Linked DNA regions of Homo sapiens. The protein of the gene in region 1 interacts with the protein of each later gene in a biochemical or structural test. Each region holds a gene or a part of one and is shown on either strand. Other genes may lie near its edges. The genes, in order: CDK6, PPM1B, CDKN2B and KIF26B.

Region 1 (8,441 bases):
CCAATAAGTGTAATCCAATATGCAGATCCGTTCTCCCTCCTTGACACTCCTTAGTATTAACATTATTTCACATGATAGAAATAATTCATATGGTGTCTTCCTTTATAACTGGACCCCTTTTCAATGATTTCACTCACTTGTTACGTATTCACCTTATATCCAATGGATACAGGATATAAACGAATGTAATCACAAGACACTCTCTGCCTTAAAGAGCTTACAAATAGGGTGTGAAAGAGTAGAGAGTCAGAAGAGGGCTGTCATGGGAGTTAACATTCCATCTTACATAACAGAAATAATATAAGGGGACAGATACAAGCTAAGTGCCATAAAGGAGGTCCAAAGTTACCAGGACTCAAAGGAAGCAGAAATGTTATCCAAATCGAGGTATTAAGGAATACAGAACAAAGAAAGTGACATTTGAGGTTGGCCCTGAAGGATAAGCAGAATTTCAACAGGTGGAGAGTGGTGCAGGAGAGGTACCAAGTGCACATTCAGAGATCTGTTCAAATTAAAGTAATAGAGGTGGATGGCAAGAAATCCATTAGGGCAAATGGAGTAGTCCATCTGTCTGTAGGATACATGTTAACAAATACAGAGGAAGAACATGAGAATATCCTGTCAAAGCCAAAGCAAGTACAATATTGAAGATAAAAAATGCATAGTCAGGAAAAGTTTAAATATGAGTAAGTATTTGAAGACTCTTACTAAATAGACTTCACATGTGTATGCCTTACAGTTAATACCCACAGATCTCCCAATGTCAATAGTCCAAGATACTTGCTAATGCAGTATACAACTCTAAAACGATGAAAAGTGCTTATCTAAGGGGTTTAAAATTTCAATCAATCAGGAAACATATACGGGTTAACCAATGGTTATGGACACCATGTTATTTATGGATATAAAATACACAATCCTGGTTCTCAAGTCAGCAAACATAAAGTCACTAAACTGAAAATACTTTTACATCTCAAGGGATTTTTTTCTGGTATATCCAATGACCATCAGTCATCCTGTCTTACCAATGTTTAATATAAACCTCTGTCTGAATCTTAGCCATCCTCAATCAGTTTATATCTACAATGCATACAATCACAGAATAAAACTGTTCACTAACAGTGAGATAATTTTTTGCATTCATAAAACAACTCAAATTTTATTATTATAAAACAGATCAAAGGGGGTTGCACTAGGTTAAATCTAAGACTTCTTCCAATTAAAAAAATCCTTATGCTGTGATTCTAATTCTACTGAACTAAATCCTTTAGGAAGGCCAGAGAATAGGAATAATTTAAGTGGCTACTTAAATTACAAAGCCAGTAGATATCCAAATTTCGGCAAACTACTATAGACAAAGGAGATGGTCAAAAATGTTTAATAATAATCCTGACTCAAATGGACTTCCAGACTACAACTGTACACTTGCATAGATTCCTGCCACATGCCTTGCAGTCCCTCCGGTTCACCTCTCAGGCAAGAGCAGCTACATGTGCAGCTGGTAAAATAAAAATCAGGTATGGCAGCAAACTGGTGATATTCAAGAAAACTACCCAGCAGCTCTTGGAAAAATCTCTCTGATTGCTGGCCTGCCTGCTCCACCAAACCTAGCATCTATGGATCATCACTCAAATAGTGACCTTCATGTAAGTATGCTTGTTATCAACCACCGGTGCGTTTTCAGTGCTGCCTCCTGGATCTTGGACAAAGCCCAACATCATACACACTAACTTCTCCTGTTAACAATTCACTGACACCCAGATTTCATCTCTGCTGTGTTCTGTTACATCAAGAAGCTCACAATTAATTTACTTCCTATGAAGACAGAGCAACTCATCTGAACCTCATGAGAAAGAACAATAGTGTGATTAGTTCCTCAGAAGGCATGGAAAACACATATTTGCTTATGTGTCTGATGGTTATTATGCCATCTAATTTTTAAGTATTATGATGTTTTTATTTCATTAACCAGAATGTTACATAATGTGCCAGAGCCACATTATGTAATATTTCATTCATCAGACAAGTACTAAGTGTTTCAATTTTTCCTACTCCTCTTTGTCTAAAATGAATTCAATATTATTAATGAATTACCTGCATAATTTACCTGTATCATCATTTAACTATAGCTATTTTAAATTATTATAATTAATTTAAATTATCATAATTATAGCACAACTTCCTTAAAAGAAGAATTTACTGGAATAATACTCTTGTAGAGATATACTTCAGTATGGCATACTGCAGAATTCAGGAATTTACTGAATTTTTATTCATTTATCGTTATGTCATTCATTCCTGGCAAACTGTCACTTTTGTCTACATACAGTTCATTTTTTCCAAACTAGAAATGTACTCACCCGATTTAACTGCTTCCATCAAACAAACAAACAAAAATTGCTACTTAGTTTTAAGAACAAGTCAATAACTTTAAAATGGCATGACAGACAAGTAGCTTGACCTCCAGAGTGTCTTCCAACCCTAATATCCATGGTTTTACAATGATAGGCTGCATGTATGCTGTGTTTCCTTCTTAAAAAACTTTCCTAAGAAATCATTAATAGTGAGACATTTGTTTTTTTAAAAAAGAAATAATTTATTTTTAATAGGAACCTATTTGCATAGATATTCATTTACCCATGTCTTAAACATAGGAAAATATCCTCAAAGATATTCAAGTTTATACAAGTTTTCCTCTTATAGACCTTTTTTGTCCTTGATTCCATAGAGAGATTCTAATAATTCTATGTTGATAGTGGTTGTATAAAAGGGATATAACTGCAATGTCAAAAATTCAGCATTATCAAGTTCTTCTGTAGGAACAAAAAATGAGCAGAATACCATTGTGAAAATGTTTATTTACTAAACAACCTTGAAAAATCAGAAACTTTTCAAGGAACTCTCAGAGACAGAAAGAACAAACATACTTTTAACATACTGATATTTAAAAGGAGAATTAAACTCCTGCTTTTCCTGCTTTTATTGAAAAAAGCCCTAGTAAATGTATTATTCAACCACACAAATAGCAATTTTATTCAGAAGGATTCTCATGAACTAATCCAATTGAAGACCTGGCTTTACAGAGTCAAATATGTCATGTTTCTTTTACCCTGTTAACAATTAGGTTTTCCAGAGAAAATCACATTTTTACTCACCTTTTATGCAATATATTACTAAGATCTTTAAAAAAGAGAGAAAATTAGAAAACTCTCCTTGAATAATCATTAAGCTTTACAGCCTTTTCTTTGGGTTTTTTGTTTTGTTTTTAAAGCAGTGACTATTCTAATTATAATATTTAAACATCACAAGTTTATTCACTGATATGTAATGACTTTTAGTTTCCAGAGCCAATACTTGAATTTGAATTGCTTTTACTGTTACACTAATAAATATAATCCCTAGAAACAATACAGGTAAGCACTGGCTTGTATCTTTCTTACAGCACATGATCCTATCATGTATCAGGGTTATGGTGATCATCTTATTCCTTCAAACATGGGAAGAACTGCTTCAGGAGAGTAGCTAGGTATGATTTACCCTGGTATCTTTCCCAGCACCTAGCCCCATGGTTTTTAAAGCATATGCCCTTCCTAAATCCTTTTTGAATAAATGGAGCTCAAATGTTCACTTATATTAGCTATGTGTCAGTATCTCATATAGATCAATCCCTATGTTAGGGAGGTAAAATTTAATCTTCAAAAAGCACTTGATTCTGATTAGCCTTTTGGTTATGTTGCCTACTCAATCAGGAAATTCCTGGTAACCGAATTATCAGAAATATCAGTTGTTCTATAAAACTGGTTAGGTTAAGTATAACAAAACAAGGCAATTAAAACAAAGATGAGTAAATTTTTAAAGAGAAGAAAGAACTGCTCATCTCATTACAAGGCAAGTTCTACAAGTGCGGAGACTTTTCCAGGCTTGTTCATTGCTATATCCCCACCTTCTAGAAGAGTCTGGCACATAGTGGACCCTCAGTAAATATTTGGTGAATGAACAGACTGCTGACAAAACATGCTATAATTTTATCTCTATTGTTTTTAGTTCAGGCTGTTCAAACAGGATCCATTTGTGCAGTGCAGAAACTCCAATACAGGTTCACAGTGAAGTCCTATTCTGGCAAAGGTTCCAGGATTTGGGATTACCAAATGTAAAAAAAGAGTAAATTTACTTCCCAGACACTCACTGGCTGATCAGGCGAGGGCCTGGGATACATCAAATGCAGGTAAGCAAGAATTTCAAGTCATTATCCCTGTGCATGCAGGCAGTACCAGTGCCAGCAATAACAAGTCAGCTTTTCTGGCAAATCCATCAAAATTAAATCTTAAACTTTTGAAAAAACTAATATGTTTATTATGCTCCTGTTAGCTTAGAGGCTTAACTATCTGTGGGGGAGGGCCTATAATTATGATCAATTACTTATGACTTGAAGGTACTTATAAAAGCATCTGCCCTTTTAAGAAACCATTAAAGAACCAGGCTTAAGACTGTAAAACTAATCCCAGGGGCAATAGTAAATCACAGGTTTGGGGACCCAACTTTGACAACTCTCCCTTGGAAAGAAAAGAATTGCTGTCAACTGTCCTTATTTCCTGACCCTGTCTGAGCAAATATTCGCAGCCTCTAAAATCCAGAATTCTTAGTCTGGCCAAGCAAGTCATGGGGACCAATGGTTGTTTCAAGGCAGAGGCAGAAGAGAAGAAACAGGAAGGAAACAAAAAGGGAATGAAGATCTGTAGCTCATGAGGGTGACATCATCAATAATTTCCTCAAGTATCACTGAATTTCATGGCTCGTGACTGAGAGTCTTTTCTGACATCTTACAGGCTAATTATCCTCAAGGATCTTCTTGGTTCCAGAGCCTGTAATGTCTGGGTTTGAATATGATTTGTTCTACAAAAAAGGTCAGGTGAATTGACCCCTCCCTGTGAAGCTGCTCCATGGCAAGAGACCATCAATCTGCTGAAACGCAAACAATCCTTTAGATATCTGAAGTACTTTCAAATTTACAAAGTGCTTTCACATACGCCATCTCATTTTATTCTCACGACTTTAACAGGTAGGTGCCATCATCACCTTAACACGTAAAAATAATTTTAGAAAACAATGCCTTTGTCTTCAGTTCATAAGAATATCCTCCTGAAATTCACAGTACAGAATCCAAGTCATGGGTCAGTTAGAAACGTCTAGAAACACATCAATCTCAGGAGGATAAATCAAGAGAATAGGATGGATCAGACAAAATCTACAAGCACAATGGCAGAAAGTGTGCCTCTGGTATAAGAATGGCGTAAGCTTTGTAAACAATAGTGTTATACAGGGGTGCCTCTGTAGTACCTCTACGTTTGGAAGGACACTATTCATTCATATACATGATAAGCACCCTTAACTGGATACTCCATAGGTAACAGACAAAATAAAACAAGAACTTCCGTCTTAAAATTGTAGTGGTGGAATTCATCCTTCGGGATGTATTAGGTGATTCCCCTAGGACGACAGCTGAGTTACAGGGGGCTAAATATACCCTCCCCTTTTCCCTCCAATATCACAAAGAGCCCCAAAAACGGATTTTGTTGTTTTTAACAAATAAAATACACATGAAAAAAAGTCATCTATAGGTTTTTATATATAATCTCATCTTCTAAAACACTCATTCTCCTTCACTAGCTAGGCCGAGGTATAATGCGGTCTTAACTTTATAACCATTTACTGCCTTATTTATATATTTATGATTCTTTGATGCCTTCTAGCTTGAGTCTAAACTGCGTTGGGAACAAAGCACCGCACAAATCACCAGCCTGGGATAAGAGGAGACAAGTTAAAACCTCCCAAGAAGATTCTGTAGATATTTGGTCTCTCTGAGTCTGTAGAGAGTTTGGTATTTCAAAGGTCAGTCTTGGGTCTCTCCACTTTGATGACTAATGTTAAATTGTTTGACTTTTTACAAAAATATTTAGCTGTGCTTATTTACATCATTTCATCCTCAGCGCACACAGTAGGCATGTATTTGTTGAACAGAAGCCCTAAATGGATGAGAAAAAAGATATTTCTGCTACACATTTTCTCAAGATCGAGAAAGGTAAAATCACAACCCAATTTGCAGAAGTTTCTAGGCATTCCTTTTCAATGTAAAGCTATGCATCTCTGTTTAAAAAAGAAAAGGATGACACAACCAAACAATGTCAACCACACAATGGGGAAATTCCAGGATCACTAAGAAAACACCATTATCCTAAGTCACACATTTTCATTTAATACTGGTTACCACACAGGAGAGAGTAAGAACTGCTGTCTCCCCACCCACTCGCACAATCCATCTGGGAAAAGCATGGGCAGAACATTTATGATCTAACCATACCACATCTTGGACTCACATTTAACCCTTTGGAGAATTAGTCTAAAGAGTATGTCCGCCCAGAGATATAAAGTAAAACAGACACAGGGATAACAGTTTTGGAAGAAATTTTTATGACGCTGTTTGAGATTGGGCATCAGCACTCAAACTCCTTAGACCACCAGGAGTCATTCTTACTACGCAACTTTAATAAAGAGAAACTGAGAGTATGACTGGCAAAAATATTATGATGTTTCTGCATCTTGTTAACCTGATTTACACTTGGCTCCACCCATAAAGTTCCCACTGATTATCACACGGCATCCTCATTCTCCAGTCTCACCTACTCTGTCTTTCAAAAATTCCCCAACGGCATGGCCACGAAAAATATGCGGGGGCTAGCGGGGCATGTCTCAGGTTGGCTTATCCTGTCCCTAAAACGCACCCACTTCCCCCAGACCCTCCTTCAGGGTGGGCAGGGAGAAAACGCTTCTAAGTTGCACAGCTGCAGGGAAGCCTGCTCAGGTCATGTTTTTTTGACTTGTCTTTCGGCTCGCTGTCTGGCAAGGTCACCGGCTCTGGCTCGCGGCTCTGTCGACAAAACTTAACTCTCACTCTGTAAGACCAACAGGTCGCGCAGGACCTCCCCAGTCGCCCTCTGCCCCGCACCTTTCTGGGCCTGAGGATTCCCGGCTCGGCCCTCCCCGCGCGCGCGAGGCCCCAGATGGCGAGGGCGCAGCTCCCTGGCTCACCTGACCACGTTGGGGTGCTCGAAGGTCTCCAGGTGCCTCAGCACCGCCACCTCGCGGATGGTGGAGAGCGGCATGCCCTCCTCGCCGGTCTGCACCCGCACGCGCTTCAACGCCACGAAACGGCCTCCGTTCTTCAAGTCGCGGGCCTTGAACACCTTCCCATAGGCGCCCTCCCCGATCTCCGCCACGCATTCGTACTGCTGGTCAGCGCGGCACAGGCCGTCCTTCTCCATGCCGCCTGGACGCCGCCCGCCGCGGCGCCGCTGGGGCGGGCGGGGGGTGCGCTCAACTAGCTGGCGGCCGCCGCTCGCCTACTCCGGGGCTCCCCGGAGATCGGTCTAGCTTTACTTGCTCCCCGCCGGCTCAGGCGCTCGGGCGCTGGGGCTTTCGCCGCTGCAGAAGCTGGATGGAGAGACCTCCCCGCGGGGCTGGCGTAACCCTGGTGCCGCCGCCGCGAAACTCCGCCTGCAGAGTCGCCGCCGCCGCCGCCGCCGGAGGAGCGAGCCGATCCCTCCTCTTCCCTCCTCGAAGCGAAGTCCTCAACACAGACACGATTACATAGCCTCTGCCCAAGCGCGTCTCAGTCCAGAATCATTGCACCTAAAGGAGGAGACGGGAGGATAAGAAGAAAGTGCAATCAGACAGCCCAGAAGCCTTCCTCGGGGTTCCTCCAGACTCCCCTCCTCCTCCTTTACGAAGCCTCCATCGCTACCCTCCGCGCGCTCCTGCCCTCTCCCAAGCCGCTTAATCCTTCCTGGTTCCTCCGAGAAAAGCGAAGTTACTTTTCTTTCCCTGCAGGGCTGAAGCCGTCTTCGCGCGGAGAGGTTGCAGGGGCCCCTCGGGGATGAGCGAGCGGCGCGGGACGCAGTGGAACGGGAGGGGGCGTGCCGAGCAGCCCAGAGTGTGCCGGGAGCGCGGGGGAGGGGAGGCGCCGGGCACGTCAATGTCACGGCTTAATATTTATCCCTATATCATTGTGTTGCGCCGCTACCCTCCCCGCCTCCTGAGGCCCGGACGTGCAGGGAGACGGGGTCCAGGGGTGCCGGAGGGCGTTCAGGGGTCGCGCACAAGCTGGAGCGGAAGGACTGTGGGTCCATCCGTGTGGGGCCGCAGAATGTGGGTGGGGGCTCCCAGGACCCTGTAACCCGATGCTGGGAGTGTGCGAGAAGGGGTGGTCAGACATCTGCTCAGAAATTGCTTCCTTTCTTTCTACTTTCAGTTTTTCTACGAGGAGACATTTAAAAACGACTCGCATACACAAATGGTCTTTTTGGGGTAAAGGAGTCTCGGTTGGAAACGGAATTCTCTCTCCGGCTGGGAGGACCTCCCTGGTGGAAACCTTGGGAAGACCAGCC
Region 2 (8,441 bases), on another chromosome or scaffold:
TCCATATTTATGCCTGTAAGATTTTGTCATTAGGAAAACTAATAGGAAGATGGAAAATTAAAGTCAAAATAAAACACCATTTCTCTCTCCTTAGATTAAAAAAAAGAGAGAGAGAGAGACTCTCAATATCAAACACAGACAAGAACACAGAGCTTTGCTGTTTGGTATAGTAGCCACTAACCACTCGGGGCTAGTAGGAATGTTAAATGAGGCTAATGCTAATAGAGATTTGCTGTAAGTGTAAAATACACAATGGATTTTAAATATTTAATTTATTAGTACTTTTTCACACTGCAGATAAAGACATACCCAAGACTGTGCAATTTACAAAAGAAAGAGAGGTTTAATGGACTTTCAGTTCTATGTGGCCAGGGAGGCCTCATGATCACTGCTGAAGGCAAGGAGAAGCAGGTCACATCTTACATAGATGGCAGCAGGCAAAGAGAGAGCTTGTGTAGGGAAGCTCTCCATTATAAAACCATCAGATCTCATGAGACTTACTCATTATCATGAGAACAGCACAGGAAAGACCTGTCCCCATGATTCAATTACCTCCCATGGGGTCCCTCTCAGAACACCTGGGAATTCAAGATGAGACTTGGGTGGGGACACAGCCCAATCACACCATTTAATATTTTTTAAAAGAATGCAAAATATCTAATTAACTTCATTGTTTATATATTGAATCATTTTGGAAATACTGGATTAAATAAAATACATTACTAAAATTAACTTTGCCTATGTCTTTTTTATTAATGTGGCTACTAGAAAAATTTAAATTACCTTACATTTATATAGGACAGCACTAAATTAAAACAACAGAAACTTTTGGCTGGGCATGGTGGCTCATGCCTGTAATCCCAGCACTTTGGGAGGCCATGGCGGGAGGATCACCTGAGGTCAGGAGTTCAGACCACCCTGGCCAACATGGTGAAACCCCATCTCTACTAAAAATACAAAAAAATTAGCTGGGTGTGGTGGCAGGTGCCTGTAATCCCAGCTACTTCAGGAGGCTGAAACAGGAGTATCGCTTGAACCCAGGAAGTGGAGGTTGCAATGAGCCAAGATTGCATCATTGCACTCCAGCCTGGGTGACAAGAGCGAAACTCTGTCTAAAAAAAAAAATATATATATATATATATATATACATATATAAAATACACCACTGGTAGGAGTATAAATTAGTATAGCAACATTGGAGAGAATTTTGGAAATATCTAGTTAGGGCTATAAGATAAGGATGGCCTACAGTTCAGCCATTTTACTCCCTAGAGAAATTCTCGCATATATATATGGCATGTAAATGGTTTTAGACCATTGATTAAAATTACAAAAATAATCCAAATGTCCTTCCAAAAAAGACTAGACAAAATGTGTTCTAGCTGCCTGTGGTGGCTCACGCCTGTAATCACAACACTTTAGGAGGCCAAAGGAGGTGGATCACTTGAGCTCAGGGATTAGAGGCCAGCCTGGGCAGCATGGTGAAACCTCATCTCTACAAAAAAAACACAAAAATTAGCCAGATGTGTTGGTGCACGCCTGTAGTTCCAGGTATTTGGGAGGCTGAGGTGGGAGGATCACTGGAGCCTGGGAGGGCAAGGCTGCAGTGAGCCAAGATTGAGCCACTGCACTCTTGCCTGAGCAACAGAGCCGGACTGTCTTATTAAAAAAAAAAAAAAAAAAAGAACTGTTCTAATCATACAATGGAATACTATGCAATATATATGCAATACTATGGAAAAAAGGGACTAGAACAAAAAAAGAACTGCAAAAATATTAAGTGACAAGAACAAATTGTAAAAAAAAAAAAAATTCTGTATATGGTCATGTACATACACCTCTTAAAACAGTACTATATGCTATTTAGAAATACATACATGTAGGCCGGGCGCGGTGGCTCATGTCTGTAATCCCAGCACTTTGGGAGGCCGAGGCGGGCAGATCTTGAGGTCAGGAGTTCGAGACCAGCCTGGCCAACATGGTGAGACCCCTGTCTCTACTAAAAATACAAAAATTAGCTGAGCGTGGTGGCACGTGCCTGTAATCTCAGCTACTCACGAGGCTGAGACAGGAGAATTACTTAAAACCTGAAGGCGGAGGCTGCAGTGAGCCGAGATCATGCCACTACACTCCAGCCTGGGCAACAAGAGCAAAACTCCGTCTCAAAAAAAAAAAAAAAAAGGTTATTTCACTTTCACATTGCAATTCCAAACACTCCAGAACAGATGAATAGAAACAAACTCAATTTCCTTAAGTTTAGGACTAGCAACCACCAAAGACTTAATAAAATGTTAGATTATATAAACAAAACCAGTTACAAGAGATAATTTTTTTAAATTCAAGTAAGGTTGTTTTTGGTTATTTTTAAATCTAAGATAGATGGCCAAATGTTGAACAACTTAATGAATCTGGTCTGAATTACAGTACTAAATTTAATATATTCCAAAATTTCAAGTTCTCTTGCATATCAGCATTTTGATAAAGTAACAGAATTACAAAAATACATTAAAAATGAAACTAGGCCGGGCACGGTGGCTCATGCCTGTAATCCCAGCACTTTGGAAGGCTGAGGCGGGCAGATCACCTGAGGTCAGGAGTTTGAGACCAGCTTGGCCAACATGGTGAAACCCCGTCTCTACGAAAAATACAAAATTAGCTGGGCGTGGTGCCGCAGGCCTGTAATCCCAGCTACTTGGGAGGCTGAGGCAGGAGAATCGCTTGAACTGGGAGGTGGCGGCTGCAATGAGCCGAGATTGCACCACTGCACCCCAGCCAGTTGGTTGATTTGCTTTAAAATTAAAAAAATCAATCTTGATTCACTTTAGCAATGAAGATCAAATGAAACTGACTCATAAATGAAAGCACAAGACCACCAAGCATTAAAATAAGAACAAAAAGATGAAAGATCTTTTATGCTTAAGTTTGCAATGTTTGTATAAACTGAAGAAGAGGCCTCTTTACCAAACTGGTTCAGTAGGAAAGCAATAGAAAGAACAGAAAGCAAAAATTAAGCACCTGCTTCACACATCTAAGTGCAATACGCCCATCTCACATGCAGAAAAAACAAAGGCACGACGTTAAGTAATACAACAAAGCTATGGAAGGAGAAGCAGTGATAAATATATAGACCAAGTTGTGCACAATAAACCAAGAGACAAATTGGCTCCATTAGCCATCTTTGCTAAGAGCACAAAAGTAGCCATTACAAATCAGTACCAGGCACTATTGGTCAACCACTAATCCTTCAGCTATACTCACGTAAGAACAGAAAGCTTTTTAAACATAAATGACAACATATATTTTATAGGTATATCCCAATTATTTAAATCAGACTTAAAAAATCCTGTTCACCCTTCTCCTATTGTTCCACCTTTACTCCCATCCTCCTTTCCAGGAACTCATCTATCCAAGGATGTACAGTAAATGGAAACACCTGAAGGCCCCAAATTTCCCTCATGTCTGTCTAATGCAGGGATCTCTTTTTCTCTCTTTGGGTCATCTTTTAATCTTAAACCAGGCAGGGCATGGTGACTCACGCCTGTAATCCCAGCACTTGGGGAGGCCGAGGCAGGTGGATCATGAGGTCAGGAGTTCCAGACCAGCATGACCAACATAGTGAAACCCCATCTCTACTAAAAGTACAAAAATTAGCCAGGTGTGGTGGTGCATGCCTGTGATCCCAGCTACTCGGGAGACTGAGGCAGGAGAATTGTCTGAACCTGGGAGGCGGAGGTTGCAGTGAGCCGAGATCATACCACTGCACTCCAGCCTGGGTGACAGAGTGAGACTCCGTCTCAAAAAAAAAAAAAAAAAATCTCAAACCAATGTCTTTCTCTAAGGCACAACAATATTTCCTCTTTCCTCTTTTCAGTCTAGTTTTTATCCAATTACAGAAAACCTCTTCCTTTCCTTTTGTTAAAAATAGTAAAGCTCTAATCACAGCTTTTAAGTTTAGTGTACAAAACACACACACCCCAAATCTTCCACTCAAGTTTTTAAGCCAGCCACATAAGGAGTTCAGCTGTAATGTAAACTGTGAGTTGCTGGTTAACAGAATGCAAGATCGTCAACGACAAGGATTTGGGATTTTGTCTGTTTTGTTCAGATACTGGCATGAAATGGGGGCCTTTGCACACAGAAGGCACTCAGTGAACATAAGAATTGGCTGGAGGGTTACAGACTAAATACTATTAGACTGTTCTGAATTCTTTACTTCTCAGTGGGTTGGTAGCTCAGAGTAAATAAAAGCAGAAAGCCTCCCAAAGCTCAACAAAATCTCCTATATAATCTTAACATTTGGAGTGCTTTGAATTAATTATGTTCCCCCACCCCCACTTTTGTTTTTTTTGAGACGGAGTCTCACTTTTGCCCAGGCTGGAATGCAGTGGCGCGATTTCAGCTGGGTTGAACCTCCACCTCCTGGGTTCAAGCGATTCTCCTGTCTCAGCCTCCTGAGTAGCTAGGATTACAGGCACATGCCGCCACACCCAGCTAATTTTCTGTATTTTAGTAGAGATGGGGTTTCACCGTGCTGCCAGGCTGGTCTCGAACTCCTGAGCTCAGACAATCCGCCCACCTCGGCCTCCCAAAGTGCTAGGATTATAGGCGTGAGCCACCAGGCCCAGTCATGTCCTCTTTTTAAGGGACTAAGAAAGGCCACCTGTGTTCAACAGAAAATGCCATTTCCCCACCTCAGAGATAAATGCTTTAGTCAGAACAAGGAAAAGGAAAAACACTGCCCAAATAGGTTAAACACCCATGCTGACACTTCTAGATTCTCCTACTCATAAGAACATCCAGTAACCAGCCCTTTTCAATGCGAGGAGTGCTCTTGATACCTACAATCAAGAAAATAAAATGCGATTAGATTTAAAAATGAGTTGACATTACTCTCAGGCTTAAAAGCGCTTCGCAAGCCTTCAAACTCTTACAAATTACTCTACATATTATTGATCAGAACTGCTTCTTCTCTGGCAAACAACACTTATTCATTTGTTTTATTTTCTTGTATATTATACGTTTGAATCTACCTGATAACATAACTGCATTTTAAAAGTTTTCTATAAAAGACAAGGTTTTTTCCTATTTCTAGCACACAAATGTACTTTTCATTCACAACTGATTCTGAAGTGAAGGCCATTCTACGTAGACAATAATCACAGCAATCCTAGAGACAAGTCTTATCCTCCCTATATCACTACCAGTAATTGGTACCATCTCTAAGAGAAAGACAAGTTCCTTAATAGTCAATACATGGCTTCCAAAGTTTGTCTGTCTCCTCTAAGTATGAGATCGGATTTAACTGGATCTTCTTTTGTTCACAAGGATGCAAAACAATTTTCCAAGAAGTGTTATGTTTCTAAACTTTAAGATTTTTAATTTTCAAGAAATGAATCAATTTAAAGCTAAAAAATAGAATACTGATGATACTTAAACATTCTCCAAGAGAAAAGTTTGAATCCATTTTATATTTACAAGTTAATATTAAACTGTGTGATAAATCAAAAGTTTTAAATTAGTAAAGTGTGTTTTAAATGTTATAAACCATGTCAAATGTATAATATATGAACTAACAAATTAAAATACTACAATTGATTAAGCTACAAGGTTCTTGAGGTTAAACAAGTTATTACAAAGAGTATTATTATTTTTGTTTCGAGACAGGGTCTCACTCTTTCGCCCAATCTGGAGTGCAGTGGCGTGATCTTGGCTTACTACAACCTTCACCTCTCGGGTACAAGCAATTCTCCACCACAGCCTCCGGGGTAGCTGGGACTACAGGCATGTGCCACCACACCCGGCTAATTTTTGTATTTTTTGGTAAAGACAGGGTTTCATCATGTTGGCCAGGCTAGTCTCGAACTCCTGACCTCAAGTGATTCACCAACCTCGGGCTCCCAAAGTACTGGGATTACAGGCATGAGCCACTGTGCCCGGCCATGAAGAGTATTATTATAAAAGGTATATGTTATGCCAAGCAATAACAAGATATTGTAGATGTGATTAGTTATAGTAAAACAAAAAGAAAAAAATGTATTTAAGCACTCTTCTGTGTCATGGTTTACCATTAATTCAGAAGTAAAGTGTTTATGGTTGTTATTAAAGTTAAACCAAAGGGGAGAAATAAAGCACCCTGTAATTTGAAGGAAAACTACGAAGTATGAGATCTCGAGGGGCAAAAAAGAAATGAAAAAAGAAAACTAAAAAGAAAAAAAGTATATAAGTTATTGTACAGTATTTATGTTTCCTAGGATGTTATATGTTACTAAAAACTAAATCTCAAAATCTTTAAATACTCTGAGAAATAAATACACTATATAGATTACACTTTTGGAAAATTTTGTAACATCATCAAGAATTTAGTAAAGGGTTCTTTTCACCATAACGCTGATTCCAGTATCTGGTCTGTTAGTCTTTTTTGGCCGGCCAGTACACCTGGCTAAATTCTGTATTTTTAGTAGGGACTGGGTTTTACCACGTTGGCCAGGCCAGGCTGTTCTCAAGTGATCTGCCTGCCTTGGCTTCCCAAAGTGCTGGGATTATGGGCGTGAGCCACCACGCCTGGCCACGCTTGTTAGTCTTCTAGGTAGTCTTTAAGAAAAGGAATATGGATGGAAATGTTCAAAAGTGTCAATCATCTCAAATCAAATGGACACAAAGAGATTAAGTCACATCAGAATTTTTTAAAAAATAGAGGCGTGGTTTCACTCTGTCATCCAGGCTGGAGCAAACTGGTGCAATCACAGCTCGCTGCAGCTTTGACCTCCCTGGCTCAAGCGATCCTCCCACCTCAGCCTCCCAAGCAGCTAACTACAGGTGCACACACCACCAAGCCCAGCTAACTTTATTTTTTGTAGAGACAGGGTCTTGCTATGTTGCCCAGGCTGGTCTCAAACAATCCATCTGCCTCAGCCTCCCAAAATGTTGGGACAGGAGTGAGCCACTGTGCCCGGCCTAGAAACATTTTACTTGTAAAGATTCTAAAATGGCTTTAGCATACTTAAATTAATCCAAAAGATGAAAACCCATTTTTTTAACTCAATGTATTGATGTAAGTAAACACCAACAAAAACAAAGAAAAAATACACATTATGAAGCTCATGTACCTTTTTCTTCACCTGTTCTTGTTAGATCAGCCACTAGAAGCTGATGATCAGTTCTGTCATTCTGCAAATTTTATGACAGCCAACTACAAACTACAAAAATTAAATAGTTCCCAAAACTCTATTTCACCATCAATGTTTGAGTATAGCATAGTGAAATGTCAGTACACTTAACCATCAATTCTGCTAATATACGATACATTTTACAATAAAACTTTAAAGCTGCTAATATAATAGCAGTATTCCATTTCATTCCAATTCTGAAATTAATTCAGCAAGGGAAAAACAAAAAGAAATCAGGTACAGTGTGAAGAATAACTGAAAATTCAGGAATATCATACTCCTGAAAATTATCTTACCATAATCATGATTTCACATTTTATGCTATTACTTGAATAAATTTTGCTATTATAATTTTGGATTAAACAAACTTTTATTATTCTGATGCCACCAGTTATTTGTTTGCTAATTTTTACTAAAATCAGTGAATTGTGAAAGGCATATTTCACAGAAAATATAAAATACTGTATGTTGCATTTTTAAAAGCGAGAGTTAGAATTATACTACTTAACTACTTTCTATGCTAGGTAATGTCACAAAATACTTTAAAATAGTTACATATAAAAATATTCATGAAATACAGCTTTTTTTTTTTTTTTTTTTTTTTGAGACAGAGTCTTACTCTGGCACCCAGGCTAGAGTGCAGTGGCACAATCTCGGCTCACTGCAACCTCCACCTCGTGAGTCCAAGTGATTCTCCTGCCTCATCCTCCTGAGTAGCTGGGATTACAAGCACGCGCCACCGCACCTGGCTAATTTTTGTATTTTCAGTAGAGATGGTGTTTCACCATGTTGGCCAGGCTGGTCATGAACTCCTAACCTCAAGTGATCCACACGCCTCAGCCTCCCAAAGTGCTGAGATTACAGGCATGAGCCACCGCACCTGGCCTATATAGCCTCTTTTTAATGAATCACCACAATCACTAAGTGATACCGTGGCCAATTCTAAGCTTCCAAGACTGCCAAGACATAATCAGCATCATATTTTAATTCAAAAGATTCCATAAAAAATGTTTGTTATAGAAAAGATAACTTTCAACAAGAGCCACTTTTTCTGACCCTGTCAACCTGTGAATCAGCTGTTCTTAGAAGCACAGTTACTTGGACACTACACTATTCCTTCAGATGATGTAATCTTAAGGAATTTAGTAATTAGGTGAATTACTAACATAAAACAGTATTTACTGACATGACTAAATTGAAAGGCCTTTCACCTATTCCTAGAGTCTTCACAGAAATCAGACACCCAGTGTAAGAAAACGGTGTTGAAAGCTCTGC
Region 3 (5,344 bases), on another chromosome or scaffold:
TTTCTTTAAATGGCTCCACCTGCCTTGCCCCGGCCGGCATCTCCCATACCTGCCCCCACCCTGGCTCTGACCACTCTGCTCTCTCTGGCAGGTCATGATGATGGGCAGCGCCCGCGTGGCGGAGCTGCTGCTGCTCCACGGCGCGGAGCCCAACTGCGCAGACCCTGCCACTCTCACCCGACCGGTGCATGATGCTGCCCGGGAGGGCTTCCTGGACACGCTGGTGGTGCTGCACCGGGCCGGGGCGCGGCTGGACGTGCGCGATGCCTGGGGTCGTCTGCCCGTGGACTTGGCCGAGGAGCGGGGCCACCGCGACGTTGCAGGGTACCTGCGCACAGCCACGGGGGACTGACGCCAGGTTCCCCAGCCGCCCACAACGACTTTATTTTCTTACCCAATTTCCCACCCCCACCCACCTAATTCGATGAAGGCTGCCAACGGGGAGCGGCGGAAAGCCTGTAAGCCTGCAAGCCTGTCTGAGACTCACAGGAAGGAGGAGCCGACCGGGAATAACCTTCCATACATTTTTTTCTTTGTCTTATCTGGCCCTCGACACTCACCATGAAGCGAAACACAGAGAAGCGGATTTCCAGGGATATTTAGGAGTGTGTGACATTCCAGGGGTCGTTTGCTTTTCAGGGTTTTCTGAGGGAAAGTGCATATGAAATCCTTGACTGGACCTGGTGGCTACGAATCTTCCGATGGATGAATCTCCCACTCCAGCGCTGAGTGGGAGAAGGCAGTGATTAGCACTTGGGTGACGGCAGTCGATGCGTTCACTCCAATGTCTGCTGAGGAGTTATGGTGAACCCACAACTTAGGCCCTAGCGGCAGAAAGGAAAACCTGAAGACTGAGGACAAAGTGGAGGAGGGCCGAGGTGGGCTTCAGTAAGTCCCCGGCGGCGCTTTAGTTTGAGCGCATGGCAAGTCACATGCGTAAACGACACTCTCTGGAAGCCCTGGAGACCCTCGCCCAACTCCACCAGATAGCAGAGGGGTAAGAGAGGATGTGCAAGCGACGACAGATGCTAAAATCCCTGGATCACGACGCTGCAGAGCACCTTTGCACAGGATGCTGGCCTTTGCTCTTACTACACTGAGGAGAGATTCCCGCGGGTTCCGCAGGCAGACTACACAGGATGAGGTGGTGGAGTGGAGTGAGAGCAATTGTAACGGTTAACTGTAACGTTTTCTTTCACACACACACACACACACACACACACACATGCTAGGATGCGGAAATCCCCTTATGACTTGCTACTTTTTGATTTTGTGATATTTTGTACTTTTTAGTTGTTCAGCAACTGTCTTATTTAATGGGGAGATTTTAAGTAACATAACTAGTGGCTCTCAGTTAAAATGTGAGGAAGAACTACAGCTCTTAAATGTAGCAATGGCACTGTTGCAAACTCAGTGCAAACGCCTAGATTGCTTTCTTCTTAACCTATTTATTTCTTTGTTAAATTTTTCTGATTGTTTCCTTTATAGAGTGTCTCAGGGTGCAGAGGTCAGACTAAGAAATATTCCAAATGTCTTTTAGAAGATAGATGCACTTATGCAGTAAATTATCTTGGGATAGTTCCCAAAAGATTGCTGAAAAAGTAGATTGAGTATAAAAACTTGAAAATATATGATGGCTCGTGGGATGTCCTACTATCACTGAACAAACTAAAGGTGCACTGCTTTGGGATTTAATTTCCAGGGTTGCTTGATCATTATATCATTGGAACAACTGATACTTCACTACTTTAATAAAGAATTAACAGAGATTGAACTCCAAGAGGTGGGTAATTTGGTTTAAAAATACATGTTCATGGGTTTACCACTAACTCCTGAGAAATGTTAAAGGTTCACAGGGGTTCCCTTCTCTCAATGTTTGTAATAATTGCTCATAAGCAATACCAGCAATTCATAAAAACTGCTTACTTATGCCATAGAAAATTAAACACAAAGTGTATACATGTATTATGCTTCTAAATGCTCATTCTACCAGATACACATTTAAAAGAGAAAAAAGGAACAGAAACAAGTCATTTGAGAGTGGAGACTTATAAGAAGGAGTACATTTGAGTTGAATACACAAATCTTTACTTCTCTACCAATTCCTATTCCCAAAATGAACATATTACTGGGGAAAGTTAGTTGAGAATCAGAGCATATGTTATTGGGGAAAGGATATGTTTATTGACACATAATCTGTACCAGGTATGCATTAAAATATATTTGTTAATTTAATATTTAAACCTGAGAGATAGGTATTGTTTCCCAGATGAGGACAATGAGGCAAAGAAATATCAAGTAACTTGCCAAAGGTTACAAGATATTCATTCCATGGATGCACAAAGAAGTGCATCTAGTTCCACAGCTGATTATGGTTGTCTTGCTTTTCTTCCCATTGCACCAGCTTGTCCTCCAAAATCATGAATGATACACATGAAGATAACTTTTTTTAAAAAAAAGCAGAAATACACAATGATCTCCCTTGTAAGCTCCTAAGGTGGCTTTTCTTTCTCTAACTTCTAGTAAATATAAACGGTTTGTTTGAAAACTATTTTAAAATGTCAACAATATGGAGAATAACCCCCCCCAACACACCTATAAAAACCCAAATTTTTGGAACAAAGATAATGGAACCTCCATTTTCAAACTGAAGCACAGGGACAGAAAATATATTTCTAGTTATCACTTAAGCACTCAATCATTAGAGGCTACAAGAATAATATTTTTAAAGTTACAGTATTTTACAATTATTAGAAAACATTCTATATAAAAGAAGTCAGTTGATACTTTAAAATCTCCCATTTGGTTTATAAAATCCCTTAATTTGACCTCTATATCTTAAATTCCAAGATGTTTAAATTTGCTAGTTGCATTATACTGGGTCATGAAAAATTATCCCTTGAAATAGATATGAAACATGTTACTTCATTTCTGGTTTAAATAACTTGTGGAATCTTTCCTAATGACAACCTGATATTAAGGGAAACTAAAGAAAATGTTATTGTGGATCCCACAGTACTATATTACACTGTTTTTTTTGTTTGTTTTGTTAGTTTTTTTTATTTAAAGCAAACCTCAAACATTATTGGGTATCAATTACCACCTGGTTGTATTGAAATAGTAACTTATCAATGCCATGTAAAAATTAATTCCATTTTCGAAGCCACCTGGCAGACAGGTTTAGCTGTTTCATCAGCAGCCTAATATATACTGTTAAATTTGTTAAGGATTTCACTTTGAAGGATACATGCAAAACATATAGTTACTATTTTCATGAGTCCTGCTTCTAGCTCCATTGTGGAATACAGAAAATTAAATATACCTGTTAAGTTCGTATCTAAACCTAAGACATTACCAAGGTTTGTACAAATTCTACTACCTGACATTTATTCCAAGAAGATCTGGAAAGTTAAATAAATTTATAAATTTAATAACATTCATTTGGCTTCATTTTTATCTTTTATTTTTCACCTAAGTGGATGAATTTTTTAAAGGGTGTTTTGCTGTTAAAGCAAAATCTATGTAAAATTTCCTATGCCTTAAATGGTTAAAATTAGTAATTTCATAACTAAGGAATGAAACAGTTTCAAGAGGAGAGCTCGAGACTGATAAAACCCCAAACGCCTCTGGGAAAATGTATACTTAGGAATACTTTCATGATATTTTATTTCCCTAATATGGCAAGCACAATATTGTGACCAGCACCAAATAATTTATCATATGAAGCTAGGTAACTGATCTTCAGCAAATATATACAAAAACTAATTTCATTTACACTTACACTGAGATTGCCCTCCCTTTTTTGAAAATATTAACACACTGTGTGCATTGATATGTAATAGTCAGTAGGGTTTTTTTTTCTTTTTGCTGATTCTATAATTACCCCTCAATTATTTTAAACAGTAAAACATATACTCATTTTATGCTTTACCAGAGATGGATTTTTTAAATCATAGAGCATAATTTTTACAATGTTCAATACATTGCCACTCTATCAAAAGTGGAGCAAGTAGAACTAATGATATGCAAAACTTAGAGACATTATCTGAAGAAGCACTCATGTGAACTACCTACTGGGGCAAATGTGAAAGCCAGTATCTTCTAAAGTACAGTGAGGTCTGCCCTCATGTTTTATGTCAGCAACTAATCATAACCAAATTCTGACACGTTTACTAGATTTTCAGTATTAACAGAAACTGTCTAGTTATTTGATGAAAACTTGGAGAATAATGCTTAGGTTGGTGTAGTTCACAGTGTTCAATTACTAAGCTACAAAGAGATACCTAGATACACAATCACACATATATGAAAATAAGACAATTTTAATTTTAGAAATTACTTAAAGGGGCAACAACAGTTGAGCCTCAATACTTTCAATATTTTCCTATTCTACTTATAACGACAGGAAAGAAAGAGGGAATGAAGAAAAGTGAAACAAGGACTTGACTGGAAGATAGAAGACCTAGATTCCCACATTGGTTCCTTAACTAATTCAATATATGAGTGCTAACTCATGTAACATCTCTACTACTATCCTTCATACCTGAAAAGTTTCTATAAAACGTTTCTCAATTTCAGCTATCCAAATGAAATTACTCCTTTCTTGCCTCTTAAATTCCCTACTCAGAAGATTTTAATGTCATTCCTTGCGTAAGGAAAAAGAATACTTCATTTTACAGAAACACAGTAACTTTCACATATAGGCCCTATTAATTACATAATAAAAGAAAATATGAACTAATACTAGTGCCACTAATTAATAATATGTAATTGGCATGGATTGTATATTAAGCACAGTAATGAAAATTAATGTATGGGTCAAAAAGCACCAAGCCTGACTTACTAATTTGTGGTGTGAACTAAATGTAAAACAAAAGAGTTTGCTGGAAAAAGAACTAAGAACAATGTATTAAGATGACACACTGACTACCTCACAGCTATTCACATTACACTAGAAGTTTACAAAGGACCCCAAACACCTATTAATCCACTTCACACTCAGAAGCCCCTGGCATTAGACTTCCAGTAGATATATGGAGTCAGCTCTGGCACAGAAAATATTTTACAACAGAGTTCCACTCAAAACTTTAAGACCAATTACAGTAAGTAAACCATGTCTTATTTCTCATATTTGGCCTCCTCCCCAAATGCATAATCTATCTATCCTCTCATTATCAATGTTCTCTATTATGATGTTGTTGGGGCTACTTCCTCTGAACCCTGTCTTATGTGACCTCTGGGTCTCCATTCCATTTTAAACGAATTCCCATCTGCCGTCTATCTATGCACAAATTCTTCCATCCCCTTGGCTAAAACCTTTTAGTCTTGGCTAAAAACTGGGTCT
Region 4 (8,441 bases), on another chromosome or scaffold:
CTCTTGTATCTCAGTGTCCTCAGCAACTCAAATGCTGCCTGAGATGTCCTCACCTCTCAATCTATTCCTGGACACAATGCCATTGGCTTTCTCCAGGGCACCAGAAATTCTTCCAACAAAGACATCCAATGACCTCCTCCTTGCCAGTTCAAAGAAAACCTCAGTCCTTACTTCCTTGACCTCTCCAGGGCATCAGACCTTTTGTCACCCCTATGCCCTGAAGCTCACTCCTTCCTCAGTTCCCATGACACTGTCTTCTCCTGGTTTTTCATCCCTCTTTTCTGGTCCCTCCTTCTTGGTCTGTCTTCTTAGCTCCTCAGGCCACTGGTCCCTTCGATGTCAATGGTCTCCACCACTTCATGTTCAGCTGTCTGTCGTCTCACCCCACACATCTGTGGAGAGCTCATGCCGTCTGTGGATTCCATCACCTTCTCTACGCTGACATCCCCCAGATCCATATCTCCACCTCAGAAGCCGCTCTAGAGCGCCAACAGGAGCCCATTGGACCATTCCACCTCAAGCTCTAGAGACCCCAATCAATTTAACATCCACAGCCATCCTCGAACACTGGGCTCACAATAACAAAACCCCTTCTCTGCCTGTATTCTTCATCTCCATAACTGGCAGCACCACCCACACACTTTCCCTGGCCAGAAACCTGGGAGAATGCATCATCTTTTCTCCCTCTGGCCCCGTATCTCAGCAGCTCCCCATGGCGGGTTTTCTACATATGATATGTGTCAGGCCGGAGCTGCCTCTCCCTTCCCTCTGTACTACCCTAGTTCAGTCTGTGTCATTCTTCACTCAAGCCACTGCAAGGGGCCTCCCAACTGGTCTCGGTGACACCACTCTTCCAACCCATCTTCTTGCTCATTCTCACAGCAATCTTTATTTTTTTTTTAAAGATGGAGTCTCGCACCGTCACCCACGCTGGAGTGCAGTGGCATCATCTTGGCTCACTACAACCTCCGCCTCCCGGGCTCAAGCGATTCTCCTGCCTCAGCCCCGAGTAGCTGAGATTACAGGTGTGGGCCACCACGCCCGGCTAATTTTTGTATTTTTAGTAGAGACGGGGTTTCACCATGTTGGCCAGGCTGGTCTCGAACTCCTGACCTCAGGTGATCCACCCGTCTTGGCCTCCCAAAGTTCTGGGATTACAGGCGTGAGCCACCGTGCCTGGCCAGCAATCTTTCTTAAATGCATATCTGATCATTTCACTCCCTTCATGAGTGCCCTCCAATGGCTGCCCACGTCCTACAGGATAAAGTCCAGCCTATAGCCTACAAGGCCTTTCATCCTCCATCTGCCTCCTTTCCAGCCTGTCACGCACTCATACAAATACTGTGTATGGTGACCATGTGCGACTTCAGTTCCCCATATGTAGGGGGCACGCATCACCCCTTCCTGGCCTATGCCTGCCGTTTCCTGTGGCTGGAACGCTTACGCTTCGCCACGTTCCTTGCCTGTCTCTGACACTAGACTGTGAGTTGCTCCAGGGCAGGAATTTTAGTATTTTTCCTATTTGGATTATAATGTGGCATAGTACTAGAACTGGCACATAAACAGGAATCAAAAATGTTCATTGGCATATGAATATCAAAGCAAAAACAATAAATGAAATATTAGCAAATTGGATCCAGAAGCATATCTTTCAAAATGCACTGTGGCCAAGTGGGGTTTATTATGGGAATACAAGGATGGTTCACTATTAGAAAATCAATAATAATAACTCACAATATTAACAAATCTAAGGAGAAAAATTGCATGATTCTCTCTCTAAATACTGAAAAGACATTTGGCAAAATATAATACCCATTCCTAATAAAACACTAAAGTAGGAATTGATGGATATTTACTTAACTTTAAAAAATATAGACAGATCTCAGTCCAAAAGCCAACATCTTAATAGAAAAAAATATATACACATGCCCACTATATCGCTATTATGTAACATTGTGTCAGGAGTACCAGCCAATGTAACAAAAAAGAGAAAACACTTAGAGGCATAAAAATAGCAAAGGAAGAGAGTAATGATATCTGTATTTGAAGAAGACAAAATTTTTTGAAAATCCAAGAGTACCAATTTTTTAAAAATCAGTGAATATAGTAGAATTTAATAAGGCGACGGGATATAAAACATGTAGATCAATATCCTTCACATAAATAATTATCAATTAAAAGAGATAATGAAAGTGAAGACTCCATTTACAATAGCAACAAAAGCTATAATACCTAAGAAAAAGTTTAACAAGAAATGTGCAAAGCCTATATGAAGAAACTCTTAAAAATTGCTAAAAAGTAGACTTGTTCAAATGAAAAGGTATTCCATGTTCTTGGGAAAGATTCAACACCATAAAGATGCCAACTATTCCCCCAGGTTAATGTATACATTCAACACGGTCCTAACAAAAAAAAAAATTGGAGTTAGGCAAGGAAACTCCTAGAAAAGAAAGGCACTATTTGAGGGAGAGAGAGCTAGCCCTGCCAAACATGAAAACATGCTACAGAGCTTCCATAATTAAAATAGTGTGGGCCAAGCGCAGTGGCTCACACCTGGAATCCCAGCACTTTGGGAGGCCAAGGCAGGCAGATCACTTGAGGTCAGGAGTTCAAGACCAGCCTGGACAACATGGTGAAACCCCATTTCTACTGAAAATACAAAAATTAGCTGGGCATGGTGGTCCGTGCCTGTATTTCCAGCTACTTGTGAGACTGAGGCGGGAGAACTGCTTGAACTTGGGAGGCGGAGGTTGCAGTGAGCCGAGATTGTGCCACTGTAACCCAGCCTGGACAACAGAGTGAGAACATTCTAGAAGATCCTGTAATAGGTCCAGATACAACTGAAAATTTGATTTATGACAATGGTGGTATCTTCAATTAATGTGAGAAAGATAAATTCTTTTTTTCACAAGAAGAAGTCTGCAAGTAAGAAGAATGTTTTAATAAAGTGGGGACAACTGGATAGACATTTAGAGAAAGATGAAATTTGATCTATATCTTTCATTTTGCACCAAAATAATCTCTCAATGGATTAGAGATCTAAATATTAAAAAGGACACTATTTAAATACTAGAAGAAAACATAGGTGAGTTCTTTGAGACCTGGAGGTGGACAAACATCTTTTTAACAATCACTCATTTCCAATTTTCTCAGATAGGCTCTGGAGCAGTTCCAAAGGCAATGGTAAGCCAATGATGGATACAAACTGAGTTGATATCTTGACAAATATTTCAAAAGTACATTAGGAATACAGGTGTATCCCCAGTCCTTTTGCATCTACACGAATGTACTTTAAAATAAGATATTTCTGCCTGTAATCCCAGCACTTTGGGAGGCCAAGGCGGGTGGATCACAAGGTCAAGAGATAGAGACTAGCCTGACCAATATGGTGAAACCCCATCTCTACTAAAAATACAAAAATTAGCTGGGCGTGGTGGCGGGCGCCTGTAGTCCCAGCTACTCGGGAGGCTGAGGCAGGAGAATTGCTTGAATCCAGGAGGCAGAGGTTGCAGTGAGCCGAGATCACGCCACTGTACTCCAGCCTGGGCAACAGAGCGAGACTCCGTCTCAAAAAAAAAAAAAAAAAAAAAAAAAAAAGATATTTCTGATGGGTGCATCTATAGGTATAAAAGAGCGATTGGGAGCACATTCTCAACAGTGCTCCTTCGCCACAATAACACCATAGACGAGAAACAGGAAAGAAAGGATGCTGATGAATAGCTTGTGACTGCAGAGAGTGGTAAAAAGGAAATTTGTCTTGTATTCCTGCAAAATGACCAAGAACCCTCCCAGACACCAGCCAATTTGCAATCTTTTTGAGGACAAAACAGAGCAGAGGTCTGGCCGCCCTGCCGATGGGGCACTGAAATGGCCGGCTGAAGAACTCTTCCTCGCAGAAGGTCAGGACGGGGCCCTCGGGCAGGGTTTTCTGTTCAGGAAGGGATGACAACAGGGTCTCCAATGGGTGCACGTAAATATAAGGAGGTTCCTTCCCCCCGCCCCTTGCATTCCAGCCAAGACAATTCCTCAACTCAGAACCTGACAGTCTCACATACTTTCCCCCAACCTCCCCACTCACTGGAAGTAAAATTCTCATCTGTGAGCCCAGGAAAAATAATAACCATCTCGAGCCGGTGCCTCTCACTCAGTCAGTTCTACTCACAGGGACCCTTAACAGCTTCTAGGGGAAAGTGTGATTGGATTTCTCTGTTCCTTGCATATTTTTTCTTCATGCTTCCTTCTATGATCTTAACCACATCAAGCACTTGGAATTCCAGGGTAAAAAAGAAAAAATCACGTTCATCTTCATTTTAATATATGAGATTATGTGTGTGTGTGTTTCAGTGTAGTTCGTGGTATGTAGGACAATCGTTGTTAGCCATTTATTACATATTATTATTATTACTATCATCGCTATTGTTGGCCCACTCATGGTACAATCTGTGATATAATGCCAAATAACAAATGGCAACTGATGTTGCCTCCATTTTAATTGACTTAATCCTTCCAAATGCTGACAAACTACCAGCCTCAGCCATTTAAAAATCACATTTCTAATGTAGTAATCCTATCTGCAATGGGTGTGGAAGGAATTATTGCAGGCCAGGGATTTTTGCAAAGTGAATTAAGTCACTATAAAAACTGACCATGTTGCTTCACAATTAATAGTCTGGTAGAATGAACTGCCATTATTCCACAGCTTGCTAAGCCTTAAAAAGAGATTACTGCTCACATGTCTCTCCTGGGAATGTTTTTATAAACTCCCAAAATGTTTCAGAAATTTTCAAATGATAAATGCTGTAGGACTTTTTCATGACTGCTATTATCTACTAACTGCTCCTTTATCTAAAATACTTCTGATATGAGAAAGACTCAAATGAAGCTTTTTGAAAATAGCCACATGTTCTTAGAAGAAAGAGAAGATTTCAGCTAGAAGTCCCTTATAATTAATAAGTACTCGAAATGCAATGTCTGTTTTATCCTATCTATAAAATGTTTTATGATGGCTTTTGGGGGACTTTTTGCGTCTAGTTATTTTTCCATACCCCTCTTTTGGAGCTGGCAAAATACAGAAATATGCATGTGGGGATATCTATATCTCCTCAAGTCTAGACTTACTTGGTCTCCGGCTATTTAGAGTCCACGTTTGGCGTTTTTAACCCCTATGACGCATTCCTTTCTTTCATCTCTGTGATTCCTGGCCACCCTTCTCAGTATGTCTGGCTAATCTTCCTGATATTTCTGGGGCATAAATGGACTCAGAATATCTGACTGAGAGACAATCAGATAGGAACATAGTTCTGCACTTTTTTTTTTTTACATAAAAGATTTTCTTTTATTGATATGGAAATGAACAGATGTCTGATAACCTTTTGCCAACCTGGAGCTTTACTGCTTACTCCAGGGAATTTCGTTGGGCTGTTGTTTCGTAGGACTTGCCCAGTCCATTCAAAAGTTCTGTCACAGATATCAGAATGATCTAGGCTAGCCCAAAATTGAGCAATTCGTTCCTTGGCCCCTATTTCTGGCTCAGTGCCCTGACTGTGTACAAAGCAGGAAAGATGCTCTTGCCATTGGACATGAAATGGTTTTGTATTCACACACTGGAAGGCTACAGTGGGTAAAAGGGCCATTCTCACTTAAAATCTCAACACTTTACACGTCCACATTCTTTTATCCGACCACTTCCACTCACCGGCACCAAAAGAGAAACGATATAAACCCAGTAAGTACTTTTTGTACTGATCAAGGTAATAAAAGTCAATCTGAGTGTTTTACAATCTGCCACCAAGCACAAACGTCTACTCACCAGGTAAGTTGCTATCGGAAAGGATGAATACAGAGTATCAACAGCAGAGCTATGTGAGCTCACAGCTGTCACTTCTACACGCCAGTCTTGAGATAGCCAAAAACAAAGTGTTTTATTATTAAATCTGCCTCCATCTCTTTCCAGAAAGCTCAGACTCGCTGCATGGAAAACCAAACTCATGATCATCCTTCCCTCTGAGCTCCATCCAATTCCATGTCTCCTCCTATTTCCTACCTCAGCCAACACTATCACCCACTCCGTTACGTTCAAATAATGTCATTTTCTACCATGAAGCCCTATCCTCCATTGGAGTGCTCAGAATAAGATGGTTCTTCTCAGGCCACCAGAGCCAGGCACTAGCTCCTGGAACCAACCAGATACCCGGAATGGGCTCTCTACTACTTCACCTCCCCTCCTTAACCAACTGTTCCAAAGACAGAACGGGGGATTCAATAGGGCTTGCTACCTACCAACAGGCACAGTGTGAGAACTCATATGGCAGCATGTTTAGAAAATATACAGATGAAATTAGAAACTGACAGGAGTAATATCTTATAAGAAAAACCTTAAATTCTGTAAAACATAAATCTAACAGAATCTTAGCTCATTAATAATCATCAACCCTCATATCTTTCTCTAAAGAATGAAAGCACTTTTCAGACCTTACCTTGGATCATTTTAATGACGTTTTAATAGTCTCATTCATTTTTTTCCTTAGGATATTAATAGGAAAGTTAAAAAGTAGAGAGGAAAACTAATTTACCCAATGTCACAAAGTAAATCAGTGGTGAAGAAGAACCAAAACCAAATCCATCCTAAAATATTAAGGTTCCTGGATGTGCTATTCTGCTTTTGACTTTTAAATATCTACCTAGGAGACATTTAATACCACCTAGTAGAATTTAACACTCTATTTAAGAAAATATTTCCCAAATGCAGGTAAGCATCTTAAGCAAATTACACAGATGATTTTTGTTAATTACTCCTCAAAAACATGTCTTTATCTTCCAGACTCTTACTCTTCAGAGCGAACTGAGCGAACTGCATGTTGGAGTCACAGTGACACCTCTTGTTCTAATGAAACTTAACTCCTTCTGTGCCTGAGGGCTACAGTGGTCCACAGTTTGTTCATTAATATTGCTCCGGGAAGAAGAAAAGTCTTATCCAAGTTACATGGCCTCCATCCATGGTACACCAGAGAACATGGCAACTGTTTGGCTATAAGGTTGCAAATGCTAAAGGTATAATGGAAATTGTACCTAAATGCAAGGTACAAATGCTTAAAACACACACCACACACACACACACACACACACACACACACAATTATTATTCACAAAGGCTTGCAGAAATTTTGTAGTTAAAATTGAGGCCCCACATCTCATTACTAACAATGAGCTGATGCAAAGCATCCTTCTTCCTGGCTGAGCCCTGTCTATGCCCTTGCACCAAATGTCACGCTTTACTGTGCTGCTTCACATATAAAACTCAGGCGACTGTGGTACTATGTGACATTCACGTATGCACTTAAAGTGATCCCCTGTGACTGCCCCCATGACTGCCAGGTCTTCTCTAGATGTCCTTGGATCACTCGAAGTCATTGTAGAGCATGGGGGTTCAGCAAATCCAGTGTTTCTTCTGGGGCCATCACCTCACTCTGACAATACAATCAGTTTACCAACAAGAGTTTTACCTTATCACATACATAAAATTGGCAAATATATTGAGCTGCCTCCCGTGACACTGTAAGTGAATGTTCCAGGCTGTTTCTATAAAAACAAGATTCCAGCTGGTCACAGGACTCCATAAAACATGATGGATGCGTATGAGTTTCAACATTTGTTTCCTCTGTAGATTTTCCTTCCCCTCCTCTTTTTTTAAATGAGAAGAGTGTATTTTGATCGGCCTTTGCATATAGGAACACCCAAAGCCACAATAAGCCTATTATAAGAATAGGTCCTCAAGAAAGGTCTAAAATAATTTGGTAGGCTGTAACGTATTAGGACTGCCAAATATCAGCTACTAGATCTTTAAGAACCAAGGTCCTTCCATCTTTATCAGATGCTCCCATCCAGTTCAACAACCTCACAGCACCCTACATTCCCTCCACAAATGTGAAGACATTGTGAACTGTGCATTTTGTGGTTGTTATCTGTATCCTCCACTAGAATCTAAGCTCCACGTGGACAAGGACTGCATGAATGGACCTGGTATTTTCATTGCTGTGCCTGACACAGTGCCTCGGATGGAGTAGAAAATCAATGAATATTGATGAAGGATCACGAGAGCAAATAAATCTGTGAATGAAGAAACGGTGTTAAATCGGAAGGTCTAGCACGCAAGAGCGAAATAAGCTTTTTGATTCCTTGAGATGTATCCTTGGGATGTCACGGCAGATGTATCAAACTACAAAAACGGTACACTGACAACCATCCACGAGTTCATTATTCTTGAGATAAGTTCTGCATTCATAAAACCAATTCTCCTGGTGGTCATTTCCCCCATTTTAAGTTTCACAGCGTCTGTGGGCATTTGTTGAATTTAACCCTTGCCTATGAAAACATCAACGTGTGTATCTGCATACGCAGGTTGGGCCAGCAGACGCAGTCATTCCTAAACGCCTACTCGAAAT

Evidence for each region.
Region 2: of the proteins of CDK6 (region 1) and PPM1B, one has a biochemical effect on the other in vitro, tested with the Homo sapiens proteins (one study listed by BioGRID).
Region 3: the proteins of CDK6 (region 1) and CDKN2B form a complex in vitro, tested with the Homo sapiens proteins (one study listed by BioGRID).
Region 4: of the proteins of CDK6 (region 1) and KIF26B, one has a biochemical effect on the other in vitro, tested with the Homo sapiens proteins (one study listed by BioGRID).

What each region holds. Positions count from the first base shown.
Region 1 is NC_000007.14:92,826,005-92,834,445, forward strand, and holds part of CDK6 (cyclin-dependent kinase 6), read right to left. Parts: intron 7,956-8,441; exon of another isoform or gene 7,799-7,955; intron 7,687-7,798; 5' UTR 7,320-7,686; coding exon 7,087-7,319; intron 1-7,086. UniProt on the Homo sapiens protein: Serine/threonine-protein kinase involved in the control of the cell cycle and differentiation; promotes G1/S transition. Phosphorylates pRB/RB1 and NPM1.
Region 2 is NC_000002.12:44,171,159-44,179,599, reverse strand, and holds part of PPM1B (protein phosphatase 1B), read right to left. Parts: intron 1-8,441.
Region 3 is NC_000009.12:22,000,995-22,006,338, reverse strand, and holds the end of CDKN2B (cyclin-dependent kinase 4 inhibitor B), read left to right. Parts: intron 1-91; coding exon 92-352; 3' UTR 353-3,436; downstream 3,437-5,344. UniProt on the Homo sapiens protein: Interacts strongly with CDK4 and CDK6. Potent inhibitor. Potential effector of TGF-beta induced cell cycle arrest.
Region 4 is NC_000001.11:245,157,532-245,165,972, reverse strand, and holds part of KIF26B (kinesin-like protein KIF26B), read right to left. Parts: intron 1-8,441. UniProt on the Homo sapiens protein: Essential for embryonic kidney development. Plays an important role in the compact adhesion between mesenchymal cells adjacent to the ureteric buds, possibly by interacting with MYH10.